Regions from separate parts of the Homo sapiens genome. Here region 1 is linked to region 2. Evidence: fine-mapped expression QTL. A gene starts in region 2. The other region holds a variant in brackets. All regions are shown on one strand. Distances are between the middles of the regions.

Region 1 (8,330 bases), 260 kb before region 2:
CTTTCATTCCACAGCACTGTTGTACTTACAAAAAGAATCCACAGCATACTCAACTAGGGAGAAGGGAATAAAAGACTCACTGATTGAATAGAACATACTGTTTTTGGAGTAGGAAGCTAGATATTAGAAAAAATTTTGGGCCAGGCGCAGTGGCTCACGCCTGTAATCCTAGCACTTTGGGAGGCCGAGGCGGGTGGATCACCTGAGGTCAGGAGTTCAAGAGCAGCCTGGCCAACATGGTGAAACCCTGTCTCTACTAAAAATACAAAAAATTAGGCAAGCTTGGTGGCGGGCACCTGTAATCCCAGCTACTCAGGAGGCTGAGGCTGAGGCAGGAGAATTGCTTGAACCTGGGAAGCAGAGGTTGCAGTAAGCCAAGATCGCACCACTGCACTCCAGCCTGGGCAACAGAGTGAGACTATTGTCTCAAAAAAAAAAAAAAAATGAAAGAAAATATTTTGAATTGAAAGCAAGCTAAAAGCGGCCAGGCACAGTGGCTCATGCCTGTAATCCCAGCATTTTGGGAGGCCAAGGCAGGCAGATCACCTGAGGTCAGGAGTTCGAGACCAGCCTGGCCAACATGGCGAAACCCCATCTCTACTACAAATACAAAAATTAGCCGGGCATGGTGGCAGGCACCTGTAATACCAGCTACTTGGGAGGCTGAGGCAGGAGAATCGCTTGAACCCAGGAGGCAGAGGTTGCAGTGAGCCGAGATTGCACCATTGCACTCCAGCCTGGGGGACAAGAGTGAGACTTCCTCTCAAAAAAAAAAAAAAAAGCCAAAGCTTAGCAATTGGAGATTGGAGATTGCACTTCCAGACAGTGAAATAGTACATAGCCATTAAATATAGTGCCAAAGTTTGCCTGTCGTCCCAGCTACTCAGGAGGCTGAGGCAGGAGGATTGTTTGAGCCCAGGGGGTTGAAGCTGCAGTGAGCCATGTTCAAGCCACTGCACTCTAGCCTGGGTGACAGAGCAAAACTCCATCTCTGAAAAAATAAACAAATGAAGATATATATATATATATATATATGTGTGTGTGTGTGTGTGTGTGTGTGTGTGTGTGTGTGTGTGTGTGTGTATGGTGCCGAATGACAGAAAAAGAGACCACTGGAACTAAATAGAGATTCCAGAAAACAGACCAGATGAAATGCAGTGGGGAAAGTGTGAAATTTTTAATTAGTCGGGCATGGTGGCAGGCACCTGTAATCCCAGCTGCTCGGGAGGCTGAGGCAGGAGAATCGTTTGAACCCAGGAGGTGGAGGTTGCAGTGAGTGGAAATCACACCATTGCACTCCAACCTGGGCAACAACAGCAAAACTTCGTCTCAAAAAAAAAAAAAAGGAAAAGTGTGAAAATTTTAAATGGTGCTAGGTCAGTTAGATATTGAAATTATACGGGAAAAATTAATCTTAATCCCAGTTTCAGACCATAACAAAACAATTCCAGATGACTCAAAGATCTAAATGTGAAAAGTAAACAATAAAGTTTTTAGAAAAAAAGACAGAAGAACATCTTCATGACCTTGAAGAGGACAAAAATTATTATTTATTTTTTACTTTTTGTAGAGACACCTTCTTACTCCATCACCCAGGCTGAAGTGCAGTGGCGTCATCATAGCTCACCGTAACCTCAAACACCTGGGCTCAAGTGACCCTCCCCATTTTAGCCTTCCAAGTAACCTGGACTGCATGCACGTACCCAGCTAATTTTTTTTTTTTTTAATTAGGTCTCACTCCCATTGCCCAGGCTGCTGGAGTGCAGCGGCACAATCATGGCTCACTGCAGCCTTGACTTCCCGGGCTCAGGTGATTCTCCCACCTCAGCCTTTTGAGTAGCTGAGACTACAGGCATGCACCACCGTGCCTGGCTAATTTTTCTGTGTATTTTCAGTAGAGATGGGGTTTCACCTGTTGCCCAGGCTGGTCTCAAACTTCTGGGCTCAAGCAATCGTCCTGCCTCAACTTCTCAAAGTGTTGAGATTACAGGCATGAGCCACCACGCCCAGCCAGAAAAAGAATTGAAAAGGAAACAAGAAGCATCAACCATAAAAGAAAAAAACTGATAAATTGCACTATATTAAAATTTTTTAAATACTCCTCATAAAAAAAAAAACTACAGGAGAATGAAAAGGCAACCCACAGAGAGGGAGATGACATTTGAAGTACATATATTCAAGAAAGGATAAGTATCCAGCATATATAAAGAACTACAAATCAATAAGAAAAAGACAGGCCAGGAGCTGTAGCTCATGCCTGTAATCCCAGCACTTTGGGAGGCTGATGCAGGAGGATCGCTTGAGAGGAGGACTTCGAGACCAGTCTGGGCAACATAGTGAGACCCTGTCTCCACAAAAAAATTAAAAACAAGCTGGGTATCAGGCTGGGCGTGGTGGCTCATGCCTATAATCCTAGCACTTTGGGAGGCCGAGGTAGACAGATCACCAGAGGTCAAGAGTTCGAGACCAGCCAGGCCAATATGGTGAAACCCCCGTCTCTACTAAAAATATAAAAATTAGCTGGGCATGGTGGTGGGAGCCTGTAATCCCAGCTACTCAGGAGACTGAGGCAGGAGAATTGCTTGAACCCAAGAAGCGGAGGTTGCGGTGAGCCGAGATCATGCCACTCCACTCCAGCCTGGGCGACAGAGCTAGACTCCATCTCAAAAAAAAAAAAAAAATTAGTTGGGTATCATAGTGTATGCCTATAGTCCCAGCTCCTCAGGAGGCTGAGAGGTTGGAGGATCACTTGAGCCTGAGAGGTCAAGCCTGCAGAAAGCCACGAATGTGCCACTGCACTACAGCCTGCGTGACAGGGAAGTCCTGTCTTTAAATAAATAAATAAATAGAAAAAAGAAAAGCAAAACACAGGCAACCCAATATAACATCAGCCAAAATATTAAACACACATTTTACAAAAGAGATGTCTAAATGACCTATATTGCTATATAAACTGCACGCTTGAAATTTATTGGCCAGGTGTGGTGGCTCACGCCTGTAATCTCAACACTTTGGAAGGCCGAGGCAGGTGAATAATTGGAGGTCAGGAGATCCATACCAGCCTGTCCAACATGGTGAGACTCTGTCTGTACTAAAAATACAAAAATTAGCTGGACATGGTGGGGTGCACCTGTAATCCCAGCTACTCGGGAGGCTGAGGCAGAAGAATCACTTGAACCTGGGGGGCGGAGGTTGCAGTGAGCCAAGATCGCACCATTGCACTCCAGCCTGTGGGACAGAGTGAGACTCTGTCTCAAAAATAAATAAATAAATAAATAAATATAAATAAATGGTCTATGAACATATGAAAAGTTACTCATCTTCATTAAGCATCAGAGAAATGTAAGATAAATACACAGTGAGATCCTACTACACGCCAACCAGAATGGCAAGATTAAAAATACCAAAAAAAAAAATCAAATATTGACAAGGTGTGGAGCAATTAGAACTGTCACACACAGTTGATACCAGAGTAAACTGGTACAATCATTATGGAAAATTGTTTGACAGTATCTAGCCTGGCCTTTGGGCCAGACATGGTGACTCGTGCCTGTAATCTCAGCAGTTTGGGAGGCTGAGACAGGCAGATTGCTTGAGCCCAGGAGTTTAAGACCAGCCTGGGCAACATGGGAAAACCCCACCTCTGCAAAAAATACAGAAAATTAGCCGGGCATAGTGTCATGTACCTGTAGTCCCAGCTACTCAGGAGGCTGAGGTGGGAGAATCACCCGTGCCCAAGAAGTCCAGTCTACCGTGAGCCATGATCACGCCACTGCACTCCAGCCTGGGTGACAGAGCAAGACTCTGTCTCAAAAAAAAAAAATTTAATTTAAAAAGGCTTTTGTAAAAACTGTCAAGGCAATATCTTCTACTAAAGCTGAGCATAGGCATACCCTGCAACCTAACAGTTCTACCGCGAGATAGGCCCCAAAGAAGTTTGTTCTTGTGTTCACCAAGAGTCACGTAGAAGAACGTTACAGCACTCTTTGTAGTAGTCCCAAGTGGCAAGTATCTAAATTCTATCAACAGAAAAAAAAGTGATTTTTTAAAATATAGTATATTCACAGTGGAATATTATATAAAGGTCAAATGCAGGGAAAAGTAATGTATTGTGCTAAAAGTCAGGATAATGATTATCCTTGCGGGGTAGTGTCTGGAAGGGGACACAATGGGGTGTTCTAGAGTGCCAGTCAAGTTCTGCTTGAACATGCCACTCCACTCCAGTATGGGTAGTGTGTCCCTTTGCGAAAATTCATCAAGCAGTACACTGATGATTTGTGTGTTTTGTTGTTTTTTGTTTGTTTGTTTGTTTGGGTTTTTTGTTTTTTTTTTTGAGACAGTCTCACTCTGTTGCCCAGGCTGGAGTGCAATGGCGTGATCTCGGCTCACCGCAACCTCCACCTGCAGGGTTCAGGTGATTCTCCTGCCTCAGCCTCCTGAGGAACTGAGATTACAGGAGCCTACCACGCCCAGCTAATTTTTGTATTTTTAGCAGAGATGAGGTTTCACCATGTTGGCCAGGCTGGTCTCGAACTCCTGACCTTAAGTGATCCACCTGCCTC[G/A]GCCTCCCAAAGTGCTGGGATTACAGGCGTGAGCCATTGTACCCAGCCTGTGTATTTTTCTTACACAGGTAATACTTTAATTAAAAGATGTGTTGTTTTTTAAAGCTAGTCTCCTGATCCAAACCTGGTCTCACAGAATTGTAGGGACTAATCATAAATGGATTCAGAAAAATAAGATATTATAAGGCAAAGAATATCCACAGTATTATTTCATCTTGCTAAATGTAAACAATGCTTATCTCTGGATTTTAGATGACATTTATTTTCTTTTTACTTTATTTATTGTTTCATTTTTCTACAATGATCACATGTTACCTGTCATAGTTGTTTTTTAAAATAAAATTTGTTTATGATAAGTTAAGATAAGATAATGAGAAGAGGGTTGGCACTCGAATGCTTTAGCTCACTGTGTCCAAAGCAAGCCCTGGGTGGGGCTCTGTTGCTGCCCTTGTCTCTACTGGATTCCTGGAAGTTGGAAATGGGTGAAGAAACAGAGGATGTAGTACAAACACAAAAGGTCATCTATACATCTATAAGCTCAAGGTCATCTATGCAGAACAAACTTGGAAGCTATAGGGAGAGTCAAAGCTTTCTTGATCCTGGCTGGGACACCTAGACCTACACCTCACTAAGACCCTCTGCTTCACTCCTAATCCATGTGTCAGTCTCTACCACCTTGATTGACTTTTCTTTTAAGTTTCCCCTTCACCGGGTTTACCTTTGCTAAATGAGATGTTTTAACGTAACCCAATGCTGCATTTCTCCTGTTCTCCCTGTCTATGGTGATGCCACTCACATTTTCCATACAGCAGCTGCTCTGCATCCTCCTATTAGGGTGACGGTCCCAACTGGATGATGGGCTCCTCTCCTACTCATCAGAAAACATGCTATGTCATTTAATAAGCCTGATTTTCCCATCTTGAATCAGAGAAGGATAGGAAGAACTGAGTTGTGAATGATTTTCCTTTCCTGTGGAGCTCCAGAGGAACATCCTATACGTCTCACAAATCTGAAAGAGGAAAAACTGGCAGTTGTATTTTCTCTTTGGTACCATAAGCTTCCTTACAACACAAGTGAGTCCAACTTGTGAAAAGAGTCATCTCCATAACTGCTCTATTAACTAGCTTATGTTTATTGAGCCCTTTTGTTTTGTTTTGTTTTGTTTTGTTTTGTTTTTGAGACGGAGTTTCACTCTTGTCGCCCAGGCTGGAGTGCAATGGTGTGATCTTGGCTCACTGCAACCTCCGCCTCCTGGGTTCAAGCGATTCTCCTGCCTCAGCCTCCCAAGTGTCTGGGATTACAGGTGCCCGCCACCACACCCACCTAATTTTTGTATTTTTAGTAGATAGGGTTTCACCATGTTGGTCAGGCTGGTCTTGAACTCCTGACCTCAGGTAATCCACCCGCCTCAGCCTCCCAAAGTGCTGGGATTACAGGCATGAGCCACCACACCCGGCCGATCACTTATGTTTTATCACATCTAATCTTCAGGGTCTAGTCCTCCCCTAGGCCCTATAAAATAGATTCTACTCATTCATTCAACAAGTATATATTGTACTCTTATTATGTGTCAGGAACTATTCTAAGTGCTGGAGATGTGCGAGTCAACAGAAAACAATGTTCCTGACTTCATGGAGCTTACAGTCTGGTGAGAAGACACATACAAAACAAACATAAAACTGAAATTGTCCCAAGCACTAAGATGGAGAGGCATCTGGTGCTGAGAATGGGCAGTCAAGCAAAACTGTGGAAATAAGGTTTGAGGTGAGCTCTAAGAAATAAGCAGAAGCTAACTAGACAGCTAAAGAGCAGACAAAGGAAATAGCTTGTATCAAGGCCCTGGGGCTAGAGAGAGGTCTAAGTATATGCAAATCAAAGATCAGTGTGGCAGTGGTCAGGGAAGAAGGGGGTATCAATTCTATCCCAGGTCTGCCTGATATCCGATACTCCAGAGCCAGAGTTCCTAACCATTTCAGCCTCTCCCGTAGAGGTCTAGCCCCAGTCACAGAAGCTAAAAGTCCACAGCTCACGTGCAGTGAAGAGAAAGCTTTAAAGACATAGGTGGGGTGTTGCGTGCGATTTTCCTAAGGAAGCCTTCCAGGAAACGAATGCAACCTTGAAGACTTGTAGGCATTGGCAGACAGGAGCTAGAAGACCTCCCCTAGATCCTTAACACGAAATATAGGCTTGACGCAGAAGCCTCTCTTCGTATCCCAAAGCGGACAGGTGAGAGAAATGATGTGACAGGAGCAAGCGAACTACAACCCCGCCCCGCCGTTCCTGCCCCACCACTGCGGCGGCGGGCGCTACGTTCCGGAAGCGGAAATGGACGAGAGGTCAGGGTAGGTTTTTGAAGATGGCGGCCCTCAAGGCTCTGGTGTCCGGCTGTGGGCGGCTTCTCCGTGGGCTACTAGCGGGCCCGGCAGCGACCAGCTGGTCTCGGCTTCCAGCTCGCGGGTTCAGGGAAGGTGAGTCATGCGTCCCAGCAACCTCCTGAAATTAAGAAGAGCGGCAGAGACTGCTTCCGCCAGCCCCGGTGCGCTCCTTCCTACCTTTCCTTCGTCCGATTCTGAAACTTTGGAGGTACCGGCTCCCCAGGCGTGCTTAAAAGCCCCTTCCACACCCTGGTGCCTTATCTTGATCTCCTGCCCCTTGTGAGTATCTTCACAAGGCGGAGGAGGACGGAGAGAAAAGCCTGCTTACTTAGCAGGAGCAGACACTAAACCTGTCCTAGGGCTCAGAAAAGTTTTCGGAAAGGGTTTGCATGTTAATTCTTCCTTCCATGTTCTCCGAATCGCAGTCTCTTTTATTAAAGAGTCTCTGGATCACGAAGGAAGGCCATCTGGGTACCCTCCCAGAGCCTCCCTTTCCACTTTCCCTTCTCAAAATGCTGTGATCTGATGGCGGCGTTCTCTGCCCCGGGCCGCTAGTCTCCCTGTGAGGGGGAGGCCAAAGTGGAAAGGCCATTGAATAGCTGAGACATAGGCAAATGCAGGATGGTAGTTCAGCTTTTCATTAATCTTAATCTGGGAAAGCGGCCTGATTCGAGCATCAACTGAGAGTTTACTGAATGCCAAGTGCTATGCTTCAAGCTGTGAAGGAATTCTGGAGACAGAAAATACAGCCCTTTTTCTGAAAAGCTTAGGTTCTAATGAGATTATGTATATACACACTCCAATAAATGCAAGTTAGCCTTTTACGTGACGAAGTACAGGGAGACTCAGTTACTGGAAACGGCAAACCCAGTTGGAAGTTTTCATAAAGAGGATGTGTCTTGAGCAGGCTCACAAAAGGATGGAATCTGGCGGAGAGTGAAACGGTCTTTTAGGACATAGCCTTCCTTTGTGTACTCCTGGAAGCAGGAAAGGATGAGTGATGTGCAAAAGAAGAGATGTGGGGTTTTTTGAGGATCTGGCATAGTATTGGGCAGCATATCCTTTAACGAAAGCTGAGAAGTATCCAGTGGAAAAGAGTGATCATTGTTGTCAGAGGGAGCAGAAAAGTCTAAAAAGGGCCTAATGAAGGGGCCATTGGATTTGTCTCAGAAGAGGTCTCTTTGTAGCTTTCAAACAGCAATTTCAATAGAGTGGCAAACAAGGAATCCAGTTTGGAGAAATGAAAGAGATAGTTGATGAAGAGATGGAAATAGTAAGTATGTTTGAAGAATTTAGCCCGTAAGGGAAGTGGAGCATTTGCTAGAAAAAAAAGTCTGGATATTGCCTGATTAACTTATCCATTAGTAGACCCATTAATAAAGACACTAAAGAA
Region 2 (8,330 bases):
GGCTGCCGGAGCTCTCCACAGGCCCCACGGGCCAGCAAGGGTGCCAGCCAGGCATAGGAAAAGCGTGACAGCCAACTCTCCCCATCTTCAGCCACCTCAGGTTCTTGATCCTCGGGCAGGAGGGGCTCCTGAGCCCAGGGTTCTCGTGGTCCCCCAGGAGCTGCCCATCCCAGTGCATAGGCCAAGAGTGCAGCCAGCTGCAGGATGAGCAAGCATAGGCGGGCCATGGGCCCTGGGAGAAGTGGGGGCAGAAGTGTGCCTCGCTGGCAATGCCACAACACGGTCAGCACTAGGGCTGGAGCTGGCAGCAAGGCTACCAGGGCCAAGGCCAAGGGACCCCGGGAGTGGCCATGAGGGGAATGTGCCAACACCCACAGGGCCAGGCTGTGGCTGATCCAGGCCACAGCTGCCACGCACCCTGCCAACACCTCTAGCCCTATGGGTCCTGGGCCTGCCCCTGGTGGCAAAGCAACTGGAAGAAGGTCTAGCAGCGGGAAGACGGAAAGCAGGAAGGAAGCTGCAAGTCGGAGGCGCCATCCAGGACTGCAGGGTAGGATGTAATCTGGACTCCTGGGGACAAGGGGGAAGACAAGGAGGCACATCGTGGCTGACTCAGGAGCCAGACATACCCCTCACCTCCAATAATTCACTTACCTAAGGAATCAACTCCCTTCCTGCCTTGCACATCTTATCCCTACTCCACTTTACCTCAGAACCCAGGGTCTTTTCTCCCAGGAAGTCTTCCCAGATGAACCTAACTCATTTTCTGACCAACTGAGCTAACCGGCCACCTGAACCTAACTCATTTTCTAAACTACCCACACCATTTCTGATTCATGTTTTTTTTTAAACCACAGACATTAACAATTTTGAGGTAAGATTGTACTTAACATGAAGACTAACTAGGAAAAAAAAAATCCTGGGTACTACGTTTGCTACTTTGGTGATGGGATCATTAGAAGCCCAAACTTCAGCATCACATAATATATCCATGTATAATAACAAACAAGCACATATGCCTCATGAATCTAAAATTTTAAAAAAAATCCAGGCTGGGCGCCGTGGCTCACGCCTGTAATCCTAGCACTTTGGGAGGCTGAGACGGGAGGATCGCCTGAGGTTAGGAGTTCGAGACCAGCCTGGCCAACATGGTGAAACCCCCATCTTTACCAAAAATGCAAAAATTAGCCAGGCATGGTGGCAGGCACCTGCAATCCCAGCTACTCAGGAGGCTGAGGCAGGAGAATCGCTTGAATCTGGGAGATGGAGGTTGCAGTGAGCTGAGATCACGCCAATGCACTCCAGCCTGGGTGACAGGGGAAGACTCCGTCTCAGGAAAAAAAAGAAAATCCAAAGTTTTCATGCAGATAACTGATAAAGGGTACATATTCATTTTTACAAAAGGATCCACCTAACAGTACCCTTAAATTCACCTGAAGCACTATTAAATGAATAAAAATCGGACTTACATACAGCTTTTATATTCTAATATGGTAGCCTAAACTTTATAAAGGCTTGGAATATTCTACTCTCTTTCCACTGATTATAGAAGGTGGTGTGGATTGCTTTTGCGACTCCTTTAGCTAAAGAAAAATATCTCTTTTTGCTTGTGTTTATATCTTCTTGGCATAAAAAAATGTTTTTAATAAACAAAAGGTGATCTGTCTGCATTAAGAATCAAATACAGGGGCTGGTCACAGTGGCTTATGCCCGTAATCCCAGCACTTTGGGAGGCTGAAGCAGGCAGATCACTTGAGATCAGCAGTTTGAGACCAGCCTGGCCAACATGGTAAAACCCGGTCTCTAATAAAAATACAAAAATTAGCAGGGAATGGTGGCACACACCTGTAATCCCAGCTACTTTGGGACACTGAGGCACGAGAATCGCTTGAACCTGGGAGGCGGAGGTTGCAGTGAGCTGAGATCGTGCCACTGTACTCCAGCCTGGGTGACAAAGAGAGACTCTGTCCAAAAAAAAAAAAAAGAATCAAATACAGGAAAACGTATCTGCAGCAGTGAGTATCAGGATGTCTTGAAAGTTCATACAAAAAGAGGACTGAGTCTGTTACACCCTTTGTGGCACGGCTAGGTTACTAAAAAAGTTTACTTGTAAGCTAAAATGCAGAGTCTTGCTCTGTCGCCAGGCTGGAGCGCAATGGCGTGATCTCAGCTCGCTGCAACCTCCGCCTCCCAGGTTCAAGCGATTCCCCTGCCTCAGCCTCCCGAGTAGCTGGGGGTTTTCTTAAAAGTCCACCTGATGACAGTTATTTGTAGGGATTTAGATGGGAATAAAAAATCAGCCTTTAAGAATTCTATTTCTGGGCTGGGCATGGTGGCTCAAGCCTGTAATCCCAGCACTTTGGGAGGCAGAGGCAGGTGGATCACTTGAGGCCAGGAGTTCAAGACCAGCCTGTGTAACACAGTGAAACTCCATCTCTAGTAAAAATACGAAAACTGGCCAGGCATGGTGGCACATGCCTGTAGTCTCAGCTACTCTGGAGGCTAAGGCAGGAGAATCGCTTGAACCCAAGAGGTGGAGGTTGCAGTGGGCCGAGATCGTGCCACTGCTCTCCAGCCTGGGTGACAGAGTAAGACCCTGTCTCAAAGAAAAAAAAAATTTTTTTCTATTTCTGGCTGGGCATGGTGGCTCACATTTGTAAACCCAGAACTTTAGGAGGCTGAGGCAGAAGGATTGCTTGAGCCCAAGAGTTCAAGACCAGCCTGGACAACAAAGCAAGGCCTTGTCTCTACTAAAAATAATTTTTTCTTTTTGAGACAGAGTCTCGCTTTGTCGTCCAGGCTGGAGTGCAGTGGTGCAATCTTGGCGCACCACAACCTCTGCCTCCTGGGTTCAAGCGATTCAAGATGGGGTTTCACCATGTTGACCAGGCTGGTTTCAAACTCCTGACCTCCAGTGATCTGCCTGTCTCAGCCTCCCAAAGTGCTGGGATTACAGGCATGAGCCACTGGGCCCGGCCAATTTTTTGTATTTTTAGTAGAGATGGCATTCTGCCACGTTGGCAGGCTGGTCTCGAACTCCTGGCCTCCTACAGTGCTGGCATTACAGGCTTGAGCCACTGCACCCGGCCTATTAAAAATAATTTTTAAAAAAATTAGCCAGGTGTGGTGGCATGCACTTGTGGCCCCAGCAAATCAAAAGGCTGAGGTGAGAGGTTGCTGGAGCCCAGGAGGTTGAGGCTGCAGTGAACTGTGATTGCACCACTGTACTTCAGCCTGGGCAACAGAGGGAGACGCTGCCTCAAAAAACAAAACAACAATAACAATCCCCCCTCCCCCCCGCCACACACACACACACACACACACACACACACACACACAAGAAAGAAAAGAAAGAAAGAAAAGAAAGAAGGAAAAGAAAAAAATATATATATTTCCTAAGATGTGGGGACCCAAGAAAGAACACTGGGCCCTTGGAGGCATAAACTGGCCCCAAGTTGGCCATCAACCAGCCTCATCACCCCTTCAAGTCTCTTTTCCTCTCTGAATCTCACTTTCCTCACCAGTATGGTGAGCAGTGAGTCTCAAGTTAAAGCCTTCTGAGGCCCTTTCCTGTCTTAGATTCTCGATCTCTCTAACCCTTCTCAGCAACACACACAAGGCTGATAAGTGAAGTGAAGCACAATTTCTATTGATCACATGATGGTCTTTCTTGCTTTCCCAGGGGGCGGATGAATCCCTTCCTTGGATAGGAGAAGCTGTGTATCCGCTTGGTCTGGGAGGAATCCTGATTTGTTTCTTACACAGAGACAAAAGTCTAGAAGGGTTTAATCACCTAGCATAGACAGCCTTCTCAGAAGAGCAGCTATTAAAAATTGGCACAGTCTTTTGGGAACTCAGTCTAATGAGAAAGCAAGAAAGACCTCTTGGATAGAGACACTTCCCCCCATCAGACTAGGAACTCCCAAAGGCAGAGACCACACCGTCCTCCTATCTTCTCGGCAGCCAGAATGAGACTAACTTTAGTCATCTCTAGCCATACAAGAACTAAATACAAAATCAAGTTGAGTTTAGCATCCACACCTTATAGCCCTTAATTGGGGAAGGCTTAATGTTTGATTTTGCTCTTCTTGTCTATCTACTGCTTCCTCTTCAGCTGAGCCTAGGTATGCTTTTCTTAATCTGGAAACACTAAGGTTTCATGGGTTGCAGTGGTGAGAAACTGAGCCTACAACTTAAACACATCATCGCTTTTGGCTAAAAACGTTGTTCCCCCAATTCTGCCTCCAATTCATGACAGCTGAGTCCGGGTAGCTGAAAATGGACAATTCTGATGATTTCTGATACTCATCGGACCTTTAAAAACATGCCAGGCGCTGCACTATATGCTTAAATTCATTATCTCATTTAAACCTCCCAACAATGAGACTCAGAGAAGGCAGGTACTTGCCCAAGAACAGCCACATTGCTGCTAAGTAGCAATGCTTAGATTTTATTCTACTTCTGCCCTACTCCAGAGACCTCGCTATTCTGGTGACACTGCCGGAAGATGTAGGCCGCGGGTGAGATCTGCAGGCACACATGGACAGATGCCTTGCGCCCGTCTCTACCCACCTCGGGGTGCCCAAGTAACAGGCACTGAGCACGGCGAGGAGCGCGTGGGGCAGGGCGCTGAGCACCAGCTGGGTGAAGCAGTGGCCTGTGGTGTCCCCCTCCCACAGCGGGAGCGGCCACGCTGCGCTGCTGCCGCACAGCTGGGCCAGAAGTCGTTCCATGGACGCCTCACCTGAAGGGAAAGTTGAGGGTGACGGCTGTGCAGGGTAACAGCCGGCTTTGCCTGCACTTCCCAGCCGGGTCTCCCTGTCTCCAGCCCCGCCCTGGAACCGGGACCGCCCGTCGCTTCCGCCCCGAAGCCAGACCCCGCCCATTCTCGCGGTACCAAGGGTAAAAACGGGAGGAGGTTTCCCCAGTGGATTTCTGGACGCTGGTCACCCACCTTGCCATCTGTTTTTCCCCTCCCGTTTCTCCGCCCCCAGGCATCCGGAACCTCAAACCTGAAGAAGCTGCTGTGCACCGGATTCCGATATCCTGAGAACTGGTGTATGCAAAAAAAAAAAAAGTACTGCCCGGCCGGGGTGCTGGGCCCGCCCCGGCTGGCACCCCACCTAGAGGTTGGAAGACCTAGCCGGCGCTATTCGCCACGCCCATATGCTGGTAGCTGCACGCATGTGCACTGCTCTCTGCTTCGGCTGGCCTTTGCACGCAGGCGCGCTGGTGCAGACGCACAGTTGCGTTTTGGTACGCTTTTGTGGCCTGACTTGCGTTAAGGATCCATCCCTCCCTTAGTGCAACGTCATTTATAACCTCTCACGTGGAGTATTCGCTCACAACTGTGTAAGCTTACTAGTTGGCACAAGCATTGCAATCTCCATTTCTTGAAGAGGTGGGGAGCCGGGCACGGTTGCGCGCCTCGGTAGTCCCTGCGCGCCCGTAGTCTCTGCGCGCCGGTAGATCCCAGGAGGATGGCCTGAGCCCAGGAGTTCGAGAACAGTCCAAGCAGCATAGCGAGACCCCAGTCTCAGATAGATAGATGGATGGATGGAAATTCAAACATACCTGCCCCACGGACAAATAATGCCATTTTGGGACACACTGTTTTCCCTTATTATTCTAGGGCTGCATGACCTTGGACAAGTTACCTAACTTTTTTGAGCCTCAACTTTTTTTTGGGGGGGGGACGGAGTCTCGCTCTGTCACCAGGCTGGAGTGCAGTGGCACAATCTCGGTTCACTGCAACCTCCGCCTCCCGGGTTAAAGCGATTCTCCTGCCTCAGCCTCCCGAGTAGCTGGGACTACAGGCGCGCGCAACCACGCCCAGCCAATTTTTTTGTTCGTATTTTTAGTAGAGACGGGGTTTCACCATGTTGGCAAGGATGGTCTCGATCTCCTGACCTCGTGATCCGTCCGCCTTGGCCTTCCGAAGAGCCGGGATTACAGGCGTGAGCCACCACCCCGGCCGAGCCTCAACTTCTTTATTTGTACAACAGGGACAATACCAATACTAAAGTACTGTTGAGAGAGTTGAATAATTAATTTAGAGTGCTTAGGGCAAGTGCTTTGCCTAGGGTAGTCCTCCAATAAATCTTTTAAGGAAGCAGTGGGAAGAACATAACCTTTATAATTATACGGACCTGGGTTTGAATGCTTTTAGCAGAGGGATGTTGGGCAGGTTACTTCTGCATCTTTATTTTATTATGTTTGTCAGGCATGGTGTTGGTATCCGCCTTTACATAGGTGTGTACAGTGCTTGAAGAAGAAAAGCTAAACAAATGACAATTATGGTTATCCCACTTAATCTCAGTAAGAAGCCCCATATCCCTCAACGTCAAGAATTAATTTTCCTATTTTTAAAAACTAAGAGATGTAGGTTTGCATTTCACAATCTTTAGTAATTAATTAACAGAGTCTTGCTACCTGGCCCAGGCTGGTCTTGAACTCCTGGCCTCAGGTGATGCGCTTGCCTTGGCCTCCCAAAGTGCTGGGATTATAGGTGTGAGCCACTGCACCTGGCCAGGCTCCACTTCTAATTCTAATTCACTTGCTGTTTCCATCACATCTGCAGTTACTTCCTCCACTGATGTCTTGAAGGTCCATCCGTGAAGGTTGGAATCAGCTTCTTCCAAACTTCTGTTAATGTTGATATACGTTGTCCTCCTCCCATGAATCCCATGAATCACAGTTTTTTATTTATTTATTTATTTATTTTTATTGATCATTCTTGGGTGTTTCTCGCAGAAGGGGATTTGGCAGGGTCATAAGACAATAGTGGAGGGAAGGTCAGCAGATAAACAAGTGAACAAAGGTCTCTGGTTTTCCTAGGCAGAGGACCCTGCGGCCTTCCGCAGTGTTTGTGTCCCTGGGTACTTGAGATTAGGGAGTGGTGATGACTCTTAACGAGCATGCTGCCATCAAGCATCTGTTTAACAAAGCACTTGCACCGCCCTTAATCCATTTAACCCTCAGCGGACACAGCACATGTTTCAGAGAGCAGGGGGTTGGGGGTAAGGTCATATATTAACAGCATTCCAAGGCAGAAGAATTTTTCTTAGTACAGAACAAAATGGAGTCTCCTATGTCTACTTCTTTCTACACAGACACAGCAACAATCTGATTTCTCTATCTTTTCCCCACATTTCCCCCTTTTCTATTCGACAAAACCACCATCGTCATCATGGCCCGTTCTCAATGAGCTGTTGGGTACACCTCCCAGATGGGGTGGCGGCCGGGCAGAGGGGCTCATCACTTCCCAGAAGGGGCGGCCGGACAGAGGCGCCCCCCACCTCCAGGACAGGGCAGCTGGCCGGGCGGAGGCGCCCCCCCCCACCTCCTGGACGGGGCAGCTAGCCGGGCGGGGGCTGCCCCCCACCTCCCGGACGGGGCAGCTGCCAGGCGGAGACGCTCCTCACTTCCCAGACAGGGCAGCTGCCGGGCGGAGGGGCTCCTCACTTCTCAGACGGGGCGGCTGCTGGGCGGAGGGGCTCCTCACTTCTCAGACGGGGCGGCCGGGCAGAGACGCTCCTCATCTCCCAGACGGGGCGGCGGGGCAGAGGCGCTCCCCACATCTCAGACGATGGGCGGCCGGGCAGAGACGCTCCTCACTTCCTAGACGGGATGGCGGCCAGGCAGAGGCTGCAATCTCGGCACTTTGGGAGGCCAAGGCAGGCGGCTGGGAGGTGGAGGTTGTAGCCAGCCGAGATCACGCCACTGCACTCCAGCCTGGGCAACATTGAGCACTGAGTGAATGAGACTCCGTCTGCATTCCCGGTACCTCGGGAGGCCGAGGCTGGCAGATAACTCACGGTTAGGAGCTGGAGACCAGCCCGGCCAACACAGCGAAACCCCGTCTCCACCAAAAAAAATATGAAAACCAGTCAGGCGTGGCGGCGCGCGCCTGCAATCCCAGGCACTCGGCAGGCTGAGGCAGGAGAATCAGGCAGGGAGGTTGCAGTGAGCCGAGATAGCGGCAGTACAGTCCAGCTTCTGCTCGGCATCAGAGGGAGACTGTGGAAAGAGAGGGAGAGGGAGACCGTGGGGAGAGGGAGAGGGAGACCGTGGGGAGAGGGAGAGGGAGGGGGAGGGGGGAGAGAGAGCGCTTTTTTTTTTAATGGAGGCAGGGTCTCACTATGTTGCTTAAGCTGGTCTCAAACTCCTGGCCTCAAGCCATCCTCCTGCCTCAGCCTCCCAAAGTGCTGGAATTGCAGACATGAGCCAACATGCCTGGCTCACAGATATTCCTAATGGCATCTAGTGTGGTGAATGTTTTCCAGAGGGTTTTAAATTTACTTTGTCCAGATCCATCAGAGGAATCACTG

What was found.
Region 1: its variant is fine-mapped to the expression of ABCC10 in whole blood (TOPMed, PIP 0.99).

Annotation. Positions count from the first base shown.
Region 1 is chr6:43,686,368-43,694,697 of GRCh38, reverse strand. MRPS18A (mitochondrial ribosomal protein S18A) reads left to right here and starts at 6,907. Exons shown (of 6, transcript NM_018135.4): 1 at 6,907-7,030. The coding sequence starts at 6,919. LOC124901320 (a long non-coding RNA gene) reads right to left here and starts at 5,736. Exons shown (of 2, transcript XR_007059586.1): 1 at 5,359-5,736; 2 at 4,805-5,027. RefSeq lists enhancers at 6,537-7,148, 7,094-7,153. The variant G/A (reference allele first, on the strand shown) is at 4,563.
Region 2 is chr6:43,424,382-43,432,711 of GRCh38, reverse strand. It overlaps ABCC10 (ATP binding cassette subfamily C member 10), which reads right to left and starts at 5,171. Exons shown (of 22, transcript NM_001198934.2): 1 at 4,955-5,171; 2 at 4,573-4,744; 3 at 1-570. The coding sequence starts at 4,733. It overlaps LOC105375065 (a long non-coding RNA gene), which reads right to left. Exons shown (of 6, transcript XR_007059585.1): 6 at 6,698-8,019. RefSeq lists enhancers at 4,525-4,594, 6,696-7,217.